Homo sapiens: one gene and its partners. The protein of the gene in region 3 interacts with the protein of the main gene of each other region in a pairwise test. Each region holds a gene or a part of one and is shown on either strand. Other genes may lie near its edges.

The links.
Region 1: the proteins of CERK (region 3) and NOTCH2NLC interact in binary tests that used the Homo sapiens proteins (3 or more experiments, as listed by UniProt).
Region 2: the proteins of CERK (region 3) and KRTAP19-6 interact in binary tests that used the Homo sapiens proteins (3 or more experiments, as listed by UniProt).

The regions. Positions count from the first base shown.
Region 1 is NC_000001.11:149,388,750-149,392,500, reverse strand, and holds the start of NOTCH2NLC (notch homolog 2 N-terminal-like protein C), read right to left. Parts: upstream 1,881-3,751; 5' UTR 1,714-1,880; coding exon 1,579-1,713; intron 1-1,578. UniProt on the Homo sapiens protein: Human-specific protein that promotes neural progenitor proliferation and evolutionary expansion of the brain neocortex by regulating the Notch signaling pathway.
Region 2 is NC_000021.9:30,540,887-30,544,117, forward strand, and holds KRTAP19-6 (keratin-associated protein 19-6), read right to left. Parts: upstream 979-3,231; 5' UTR 948-978; coding exon 771-947; 3' UTR 649-770; downstream 1-648. UniProt on the Homo sapiens protein: In the hair cortex, hair keratin intermediate filaments are embedded in an interfilamentous matrix, consisting of hair keratin-associated proteins (KRTAP), which are essential for the formation of a rigid and resistant hair shaft through their extensive disulfide bond cross-linking with abundant cysteine residues of hair keratins.
Region 3 is NC_000022.11:46,736,266-46,740,016, reverse strand, and holds the start of CERK (ceramide kinase), read left to right. Parts: upstream 1-1,764; 5' UTR 1,765-1,868; coding exon 1,869-2,010; intron 2,011-3,624; exon of another isoform or gene 3,625-3,714; intron 3,715-3,751. UniProt on the Homo sapiens protein: Catalyzes specifically the phosphorylation of ceramide to form ceramide 1-phosphate.

The DNA of each region.
Region 1 (3,751 bases), on a different chromosome or scaffold from region 3:
GCTCTGCTTCATCACTACAAAGCCTCCTGGTCCACTTCTGAAATTCTTAGTGACCTAGACGTGTACGAAATTTGAACTTTCCAAGAAGTATCTAGTTGGTGCTGAACAACCCAGTACTATTTTCGGGTGATAAATAACCTTGTTCTCTTTTTAAACATCTGCGATTGACATGTCGACTGACTGTTAACAATGAACAAAGACCATATTTTTCTGAAGCTCATCATCTTCCTAACCTTTTCTTTGAAAACAGATGTAGTTCATGTACTAGTTTTTTGGTGAAGGTAAAAATCTTTATTCAGATTAGGCTCAGAAAAAGAAGGGGCTGCTTTCCGTTCAACAAATATGCACAAGACACCATCCCACTGGGAGCATCAATCTCAGAAGCAGTAAAACACAGCCTCGGCCCTCAAAGGACTTTCTGAACACCTTTGGAGTGTCATCCGTTTAATATACATTATTTTAATTAATCCTATTAGCTGGATAATTTCATTCCCATTTTATTGGTGAGTTCATATAGCAGAGCTGGATTTGAATCCAGGATTACAGAGCAGGGCTCCAAAGCCCAAGTTATTTCCACTAAAGGGTCTGAAGAAATGTAGAATCTAAAAGTGTGGGTGGGATGGGGAAGATATGATTTGATTCCCTTTCCTTGGTCCAACCGTGTTAGAAACATCCAACCATAAAGAAGCTTTCTAAGGAAGCCCTTTGAATTGACGTATCCACTTTTTCTCACCCGCCCGTGCCCCACCCCCAGCCATGCCAAAGGAGCAGCAAATGCTGCTGCCAGGTTGGAGGAATTGGTGATCGTCACACCACATTCCTGGGTCTGGACACAGCCTGAAACAGCAGCAGAGCTCCGCGCCTCGGAAAGAATAACAGCAGTTGAGATTTTTAAATCATGTGCCTCAGCATGCAGCCACACCAGTTGCCCTACTTCTCCTGCCTCCACCTTTCAAAGACGCGAGCAGCACACCCGGCTCCTCCGGACTTTCGGTGGGGTTGGAGTGTCAAAACTCAGGCGCGCCGCAAAACCCCGTCCCCATCCAAACCAAGCCCACACACCCGGCCCATGTGCCGCCCCCTGGCAAAGGCGAGGCTGGCTGCGAAGGTGCAGGCCGTTTGGCTTGGCGGCCCTGCCCCCGCTCTCCACGCCAGAATCTGGCACGCCTTCGCTCAGCCCCTCCGAGGCCCGCCGTCGGCTCTCGCTCGACCCCAAGAAACGCGGAACCTGAAGGGCAAAACTGCCCACCTCCCTGCACCCTGGCACTACGAAAAAGGAGTTTCTGAGACTTGCTGCCGGCCTCCCTCCTGCCGAGGAGGCGTGTGAGGGGTCCCGGGCCGCGGGGAGCAGAGGCGGCGGGGAACCCCGGCGGTTGGCGGGGAACCCCGGCGGTTGGCGGGGCACCACGGGAGGGGCCCCCGGCGATGTCCAAACTCTCGGGAACCCAGCGAGTGGCCTCGCTCCGCGCCGGCGGCCGAGCCTGGCCTTCCCACACAGAGAAGGACCGAGGGGGAGAAGGGTCGCCCCAGGTGGCAGCCCCGGGCGCCGCGGACAGCGCCCCTCAGCCCGATACTCACCATGCGCGGGGGTCGCGCAGCACAGCCAGAGCGCCAGCAGCGCCCACAGCAGAGCGGCGCAGGGCGGGCATCTTCTCGGTCGCCGCCTCCTCCGCCGCCGCCGCCGCCGCCGCCGCCGCCTGGGCAGATCCACATGGGGAGGGGGTCCCGATAGAGGAGCCCCACTCTCTCCTCCCCTCCTCCTGCTTCAAAGGCTCAGGCCCTGGCGCTACGGTCCGAAGCACAGGCGCAAATGCCTCGACTCCCCGCGCCCCGAGTCCGCCGCTCCTCGGCCGCCGCCTCAGCCGCCGCCCGAAGTTTGGCTGAAACTTTCTCGGGTGTGCAGCGAAGCAGCCTCGTGTGTCCTTCCGCCTCAGCCGCCTCCTCCCACCGCAAGCCCCGCCCCACTGTCGCCGCGGCCTCGGCCCCGCCGCCTTGGGCACCCAGGGGTTTCCCGCAGGAAGAAGCGCCGGCCCGAGCTCCGCGCGGAGGGATCTACTACGAGTCACTGGCCCCGTCCGCATCCTTCTCCAGCAGCCTTAACTCGATCAGGGCTGCAGCGGCTCGCTGGCTTGACCAGTGCAGAAGGGGCGTGGAGGTGAGGGGGGTGGGGTAGGACTCTGAACTTCAAGCACTGGAGTTTGCCGGGATCGTGAACTTGCAGGGAGAGGCGGTCCTCATCCAGTGAGGTCTGTATCGCCACCTACACCCACACATCCACACACTGCTTTGCTAGCTAGAGGAATGCTCTGGAGTAGGACCAGTGCTGTCAAAGAAGGAAAGTGGGCCAAGGCGCCAAAGTCCATTAAAAAGGAATAGAGCCATCACGGAGTGGTGCTGCCCCATTCATTCATTCATTTGTTCATCCGTGTAGCGAATATTTCTTAAGTGCCTTACTTTGCGTAGCTGTGTGCTTGGCAGTGGGATGATACCAAAGATGCACAAGCAACTTTGAGTACCAAGACTTTGCCGCTGTGGGCTGGGGGATTCAGGGAAGGCTTTCCCAGAGGAGCTGGGATGAAAGCAGGATCTTGAAAGGTCAGTAAAATTTGTATAAGACAAGGAGACCAGCTAAGCTAAGGATATTCGTTGTAACACTGTAATAGCAAAACCTTGAAAACAACATAAATGCCCACCCTTAGAGGAATGGATGAATAATGTATGGTATATTTATAAAATGAAATGCAACACAGTAATTGAAAAGACTATAGCTATTTATGTCAATAGGGATAAATCTTAAAAACTAAATGATAGTGAAAATAATCGCAGAGGGAGACAAAGTATACCATTTATGTATATTTTTTTCAAGACAATACTACACATTATCTGTGGATGCATATATATAGATATAGATATAGATATTAAGAGACTATAACCAGAATAGTAGTTACTTCCAGGGCAGGAGAGTAGGGGGTGTGATCAAACCTGGGTACAAGTGGGCTAAGAAAAGAGCTAAAAGTAAGAACAACAACAATAGTTGTATGGACATATCATTCCAGGAAAGAGCCCTCGTGAAAGCAAAGGTACAGTCAAAAGAGTAAGTAAATGAGTTCTGTCTCTGTTAGCAGTGAGAGGAGTCAAGGACGGAAAGGGGGTTGGGACCAAATTATGCAGCCTTGAATGGCAAGCTGAAAGGGTGGGGAGGCAGCTACCTCTTAGGTCACATAAAACTATTGAAAGTTTTTGAACAGAGTTGAGATTGATGGAAAGGAAGATTGCTCTGATAGTTCTGTAGAAAATTGATTGTTGGGAGCAAGAGGTGAACTGGAGCCCCAGGACCAGTCAAGAGTTGGTGAACAGTCCAGGCACAAATTTAAGAAGACCTGAACTAATAAGGTAGATTTCAGAAGGAATGAATCTGAGACAATGTTAAAGAAACAGAAAAAAAAATGGAGGTGTGACTAATTGGATGTGGGAGTTTACAATCCTGTTGGGATGGGAAATCCTACCCATAGAACCTCTCCCTGACTCCTATAGGATAAAATTCAAACTTCTAAACATGGTACATACAAGGCCTTTTCGTCATTGGGCCCCATCTCCTGTCCTCCCTGCCCCTGTTGTGAACTTCACACAATAACAGTATTGGCTAACTTGAGATTCCCCCAAACATATCTTGCTGTTTCTGTCCCTGTATCTTTTGTTCCTTTGGCTTGGAATGACTCCTGTAGTCCCCTTCCCTCCTCCTCTTAATGAA
Region 2 (3,231 bases), on a different chromosome or scaffold from region 3:
CAGTGTTGGGTACATGCGAGCTTTGATAGCATTCTTTAGACCTTACGTATTATTACAAATATTATTTATATTAACTCAATGTTTTATTTAAAATTCGCTTTCATTGATTAACATAGAATTACTGTGCTTTGAGATAAACCTCAGAATACAAACACACTAATTGGAATGAAGATTGCAATAAGTTATTGTTTAAAACTAAGTCATAAAAATAATAGTGTACATAATCATATTCTAAAAACAAAATCACACACAAAACCACTGAAAACAGATAAAAAGTAAAGACAGATGAAAGTACACAGTGATTTTGTCCATCTTATTCTTTTATATCTTCAGGACTTAGAATGGTGCCCAAATTTGGAGACACACAATGAATATATGTTGAATAAAATATATTATTGAGGCAAAACTGTTGAAATAAAAACACCAATTCAGAGGAAAGAAGACAAACAGCTTGATTGAAGTCTCATCAATGCATTTGAAATGTACTAAAATGAATTGATAAAGCCATGTTTGCTATTCAAGTTAAACGTGTTTATTTAAAACTATTTTAAAATACATGTCACAACAGATGTCAGTGACTAAATAATAATAGGTGAAACCCTGATTCAATGTAATGATTCCAGATTCTTCCATAAAAACTGATGGCTAGTTCCTTCTGGAGCATGAAGCCAAAAAATGGTAGGTATTTTCTCTACATTGAGAAAAGTGTTCGCCTTGCTGAAGCATACGGGCAAGATCTTGGAGTTAGAGTATGAGAATCAGCAAGTTTTTTAGTAGAATCCAGAGAATCCATATCCTTCACGGCATGATGGGCGGCAGCAGCCATATCTATAGCCTCCATAGCCAGAGCCATATCTGTAGCCTCCACAGCCACAGCCATAGCCCAGACCACCAAAGCCTCCACAGCCATATCCCAGGCCTCTGTAGTAGCTGCCATAGTATCTCATGGTGTCAGGGACTAGAGATTCAGTTCAATGCTAATGATGAGTTTCCTGAGTGTAGGTGTCTCTAACTTCTCAGAATGATTTTATACTCTAAGTAGTGGGTGTCATGAACAACAATGACAGGTGATCTTATTTCCACATAACAGAATAATTTTAAGTCTAACAATTGTTTATTTTTTTTCTTTTCTTATGTAACAAAGGGTCCAAACTATTATTTAAAGACTTTTAGTCTTTAGTTTGCATTCCTAAGAACAAAATATTTTGAAGATGAAAAATGATTATAGCCACTTCAAAGGCCAGGCTGGTGTTGTAATTAAAATGGTCTAATCGGGTTGATAGCTTCCAGTAACGCTGTAATTACATAACCTCATATTGCTTTTCTTTTTAATTTGCAGTCCATCGTCTTGGTTACTTCATTCCCAGAACCCAAGGACTTCTCTTCATGGTAGTCAGGGCATAGTCACAAAGTCATTAGTGATTTCCAGTAGTCAAATTTAGAGGAAACCTTGGTTTTTGACTCATTTGAACTTTAATTGACCTTTGACATTGCTAACCTTCCATCCATTCATTCTTTTGTAAAGCTTTCTTGCCTTAATTTCTATGAGAAACCTTCAATTAGCTTCCTCTGCCAATTTTTTGTTAGGCTTCTTCCCAATTTTTTATTCATCCATTAACTTCAAAAGTGTACCTTTTCCTCTGCATACACTTTTCCCATGAAGTTCCATTAAATATTATTTTTCTTTTTTCAAATTTTATTTTTAAGAATACATAGTAGAGTATATATATCTATGGGGTATATGAAATACTTTTATACAGACATGACAATGCATACTAATCACTGGTTAATGGAGTAATAATCACTGGTAAATGATAAATAGGGTATCCATCCCCTCAAGCATTTATCCTTTGTGTTAAAGCAATTCAATTACACTCTCTTATTTTAAAATGTTCGATTAAATCAATAATTTAATTTAAATGCAATTTAATTATACATTTTAAAATAACTAAGAGAGTATAACTTAGTATGGCCACACTTTTGTGCTATCAAATACTAGGTCTTATTCATCATTTCTATTCCTTTGTACCCATTAACCACCCCTACTCCTCCATCACTCACATCCCTCCCCACCCCTACCCTGCACCCACCTACTCCCCTTTCCATTCTCTGTTAACCATCCTTCTAGTCTCTATCTCCATGAGTTCAATTGTTTTCAATTTTTAGCTCCCACAAATAAGTGAGAACATACAAAGTTTGTTTTTCTGTGCCTGACTTATTTCACTTAGCATAATGACGACCAGTTCCATCCATTCTGTTGCAAATGACAGGATCTCATTATTTTTTATGGTTGACTAGTACTCCATTGTGTATACATACCACATTTTCTTTATCCATTCATCTGTTGGTGGAAAATTAGGTTGCTTCCAAATCTTTGCTATTATGAACAGTGCTGCAACAAACATGGGAGTGCACATATCTCTTTGATATACTGTTTTCCCTTCCTTTGGATGTATACCAGGCCTCCATAGTAGCTGCTGTAGTAGCTCATGGTGTCAGGGACTAGAGATTAGGTTTGATGCTAAAGATGAGTTTAGCACCAGCAGTGGGATTTCTGTGTCATATGGTAGCTTCATTCTTTGTTTTTTGAGAAACCTCCAAACTGTTCTCCATAGTGGTTGTACTAATTTCCATCCCCACTAATAGCGAATGAGGATTCCAAAACATCTATTTGGTTCTTTTGTCCATTTCTAATCAGATTATTAGATTTTTTTTTTCCGTACAGATTTGTTTGAGCTCCTTATATATTCTGGTTATTAATCCCTTGTCAGATGCATAGTTTACAAATATTTTCTTCCATTCTGTGGGTTGTCTCTTCATTTTGTTGATTGCTTCCTTTGCTGTGCAGAAGCTTTTTAACGTGATGTAATCCTATGTGTCCATTTTTGCTTTGGTGGCCTGTGCTTGTGGAATCTTACTCAAGGAATTTTTGCTGAGACCAATGCCCTAGAGAGTTTCCCCAATGTTTTCTTATAGCAGTTTCATAGTTTACTTTTATTTAAGTCTTTAATTCATTTTGATTTGATTTTTGTATATGGGGAGAGATAGGGGACTAGTTTCATTCTTCTGCACATGAATGTACAGTTTTCCCAGCACTATTTATTGAAGAGACTGTCTTTTCCCATGTGTATGTTTTTGGCACTTTTGTCAAAAATGAGTAGGTGTCTGAACTTGTTTTTGGGTTCTCTCTTCTGTTCCGTTGGTCTATGTGTCTGTTTTTATTACAGTACC
Region 3 (3,751 bases):
TCCACCCGCTTCAGCCTCCCAAAGTGCTGGGATTACAGGTGTGAGCCACAGAGCCCGGTCAACATTTCCTCTTCTTGTAAGGACGCGCTGGATGAGGGCCCACCCTAACAGCCTCATTGAATCTCCTGTGTGTTTTGTAACTGATGTTGCTGTCTCCCCCAACGGAGCTCCTTCGGGGCCTAAGCACTTCTGAGTCGTCTCTGGGCCCCCACCTCTGGCTGCAGGATTTTAAGCCAAGGCGTGCAGCCGGGGGACAGCAACGTGAATACGCCGGGAGGGGCACGGGGAGCCTAAGCACAGGGAGGCCCAGGGAAGGGGTCCCCAGTAGGGACGCTGGTGCTCTCGGGCCCCTGCCCATGCCACCCTTGCCTGCCAACCCTCTTCGCATGCAGCGGCACCCTCCTGCCACTGGCATGAGCTTTTCTTTCCAAGTAAGTTTCAGATCCACATTTCCCAGGCCTCAGAGCGGCAGCTGAGGGAGGGAGGAGGCTGGGCAGGCCTCGCTGCTGCACACCCCACTGTGTGCCACGATCAGGTACTGCCTGCTAGGACTCTGACTGGGCCCACGGTGGCTGCAGGACTGTCCTGGGGCCTTCACTGCATGGCCTGAACAGGGGCTGGGCTCCCAGGGAGGAATGATTCATGGCTGGTTCCCGCCCTATAGACAAGACAGTCACAAGGAGCTGGCAGGGTAAGACCTGTATATGCTGCCACCTGGTGCCAGGCACAGCAGCAAGGCCACGTGGACCTAGCCCACCTCACCTCTGCCTGCAGCAGCAGGGCTGGGTAGGGGAGCCGAGGGGAGGGGCAGGCCTCAGACCTCAGTGTCACATCCAGGCAGTGTCAGTGTGAGCCTAGGCTCTGCCACACTGGAGCCCTGTGCTCTTGGGCAAGTGACTTAACCTCTGTGAGCACAGTCTTCACTGATAAATCAGGGAGGGATGTGCCCTCCGAACCAGGTTGTGGCTGCTTCCTATGGGGCTGTGTTAAGCACTGCGGACGCAGAGACTGGAGCTTGCATGAAGGCGCACGGCGTGCTCTGAAGGCAGGGCTGGAGTCCCTGCAGGCTGGTGATTCCTTCAGCTGTGGGGTCAAGGAGGCCTTCCTGGGGAGGCGGTGAATTGGGGCCACAGGGGCCGTGTCTCTCCAAGTCTGGGGCCCAGGCTCCGGTTCCTAGGGCCAGCTCGGGGGCGGCTGCTCAGCTGTCTGCTCTGTGGCTTCAGGCCCCAGAGCAGTTCAAAGGGCCAGCGCCCCCGCCCCCTAAAAAGACCTCCGCCTCCTGAAAGCCTTACCTGCCTGTCGGGGCCCAGCTGCAGGCCCCCTCCCAGGCCGACAGGACGCCAGGATCGTAGAGGGCACCCGCCGCCCAAGGTCACGTCGCCCGTGGCGCCCCCATCCAGGCCCGCCCCCCGCCGCGCCCGATCGCCAGGACTGCGTTTCCACGCCGCCCGGACCCCGCCTGAACCGAGGCCCGCGCGGAAGGCGCCACTGAGTCCCGGCCGGCCGCGGGAGCGCCAGATTCAGCACCCGGCACCCGCCGGAGAAGAGAGGAGAGAAAGGCAGCCGCCTCCCGGCCCCAGCGCCCTGGCCTCGGCCAGCCCCATCCCGGCCCCTTCCTCCTCCCTCTTCTCCCCTTCTCGGGTCCCCCCGTCTCTCCCTGGCTCCCGGCCCCTCCTCTACCCACGCCTCCTCCTCGCCCCCGCCCCGCCCGTCCCCTCCGCGGTCCCCGCCGCCCGCGTACGGGGTGACGCAGCGCCGCCTCCCGCCGCCCGCCGCCCGCCGCCCGGGCCACTGCAGGGGCCGCTAACGGTCCGGCGCCCCTCGGCGTCCGCGCGCCCCCAGCCTGGCGGACGAGCCCGGCGGCGGAGATGGGGGCGACGGGGGCGGCGGAGCCGCTGCAATCCGTGCTGTGGGTGAAGCAGCAGCGCTGCGCCGTGAGCCTGGAGCCCGCGCGGGCTCTGCTGCGCTGGTGGCGGAGCCCGGGGCCCGGAGCCGGCGCCCCCGGCGCGGGTGAGTGTCGCCGCCGCCCGGGTTCGGCCGGACCTGGCCAGGGAGCGGGGGCGGCTTGGGGGACCCGGCTGGGGGGACCGGGTGCAGGGAGCGAGCGGCTGTGGTAAGGCCGGGGGCCCTGGGAGCGCAGGCGCCAGGGAGGGGTCGGGGCAGGCGGGAGGGAGGCCGGGGCCAGGGGCCGGGCTGTGCGCCGCCGTCTGCTCCGGGAACCCGAGGACAAAGCGCCGCGCAGTGGAGGGGAGGCCGGCGCCCCATCCCCGCGGGGAGGTGGGACCCGGGGCGCGGGGTCGTGGCCCCCGGTGCGGTCTGTCCGCAGGGCACCTCTGGACAAGACGGACTGTGGATGGATCCCGAGGGGGGGTGCCAGGCGCTCCCCACCGCGCGCATTGCAGTTTACTCCAAGAACAGATGCTTTTCTTTAGCAGGGATCCGAAACCTGAGAGGCGCCCTTGCAGGGTGAGGACTTCCTGTTAAGAAGTTAAAGAAGGGGCCCCTGACTTTCTGTGGGGTGTGCTCCCTGCTCGGGATGGGGGAATTGGTTTCCGTGCCACGGGTTGGCTACTTGCCCCGCAGAGGCCCTCCGGATGAGGAGAAGAGTGACTTTGGTAAACATGGAGGACGCATAGCCCACCCTGGAGAGAGCCCTGCAGGAGGACAGAGGGTTTGTTTTTGTTTTTTGTTGTTTTTTGTTTGTTTTTTGTTTTTTTTTTTTTTTGAGTCGGAGTGTTGCTCTGTTGCCCAGGCTGGAGTTCAATGCCACGATCTTGGCTCACTGCACCTCCGCCTCCTGGGTTCAAGCAATTCTCCCTGCCTCAGCCTCGGAGTAGCTGGGATTACAGGAGCCCGCTACTACGCCCGGCTAATTTTTGTATTTTAGTAGAGACAGGGTTTCACCATGTTGGCCAGGCTGGTCTTGAATTCCTGACCTCAGGTGATCTGCCCACCTCAGCCTCTCAAAGTGCTGGGATTACAGGTGTGAGCAACCGCACCCAGCCTTTTTTCTTTTTAATTATTGGGGTGGGTGTGGCAGAGGCCAGGATTCATGCTGGATGTGCGGAGCTGGAATGGGGTGGGTGTGGCGGAGGCCAAGATTCTCTGGTGGATATTCGGAGCCTGGGATGACACCTTTAGACCCTGTGGGCAGTCGAGGTCAGGAGTTCTTCTGGGCGCTTTCTGGTGCTGAGTGGTGAGGATCTGTGGGTTGGGTTCTGGTGGGGACAGAGTTGAACGTTAGGTGGGGCCAAGGTCGAGGGGTGGTCTCAGACCCATGACCAACACTTGGTTTCCAGCCCTGGGGTCACCTATCTGTGGCTGGGCATCTGAGACTTGACTTTCCTAAGGTATTTCTCATGTCCCCTTTGGTAGAAATGTCACACCCCAAATATCACCCACCAGGGCCCACACACAAGGAGAACAGGTGCCTGACCTGGGCCCGAAGGGTTTGTACTTTGTTGTAAATCCCTAGGCTTCAGGAAGATGACTGCCTCCCCCAAGCACTTCCTAAGTGCGGGCCACTGGGCTTCAAACCGGATGGGTTCCTGAGAGGCAGCTGCTCCCGTCCTAGGGATGCAGGGGCCGATCTGCAGGGGCTGGAAGTGACTGGCCCAATTAGCTGCTGTGCTTGTAGCCACTGGGCTGTAAGGCTTCCCTCAGGCTCCAGCCGCCGCAGAGACGCCAGACCCTTACAGGGCATCTGTGTGGGAGGTCAGTCATCACTGCTTTCTGCCTTGGCGTCCCCAGC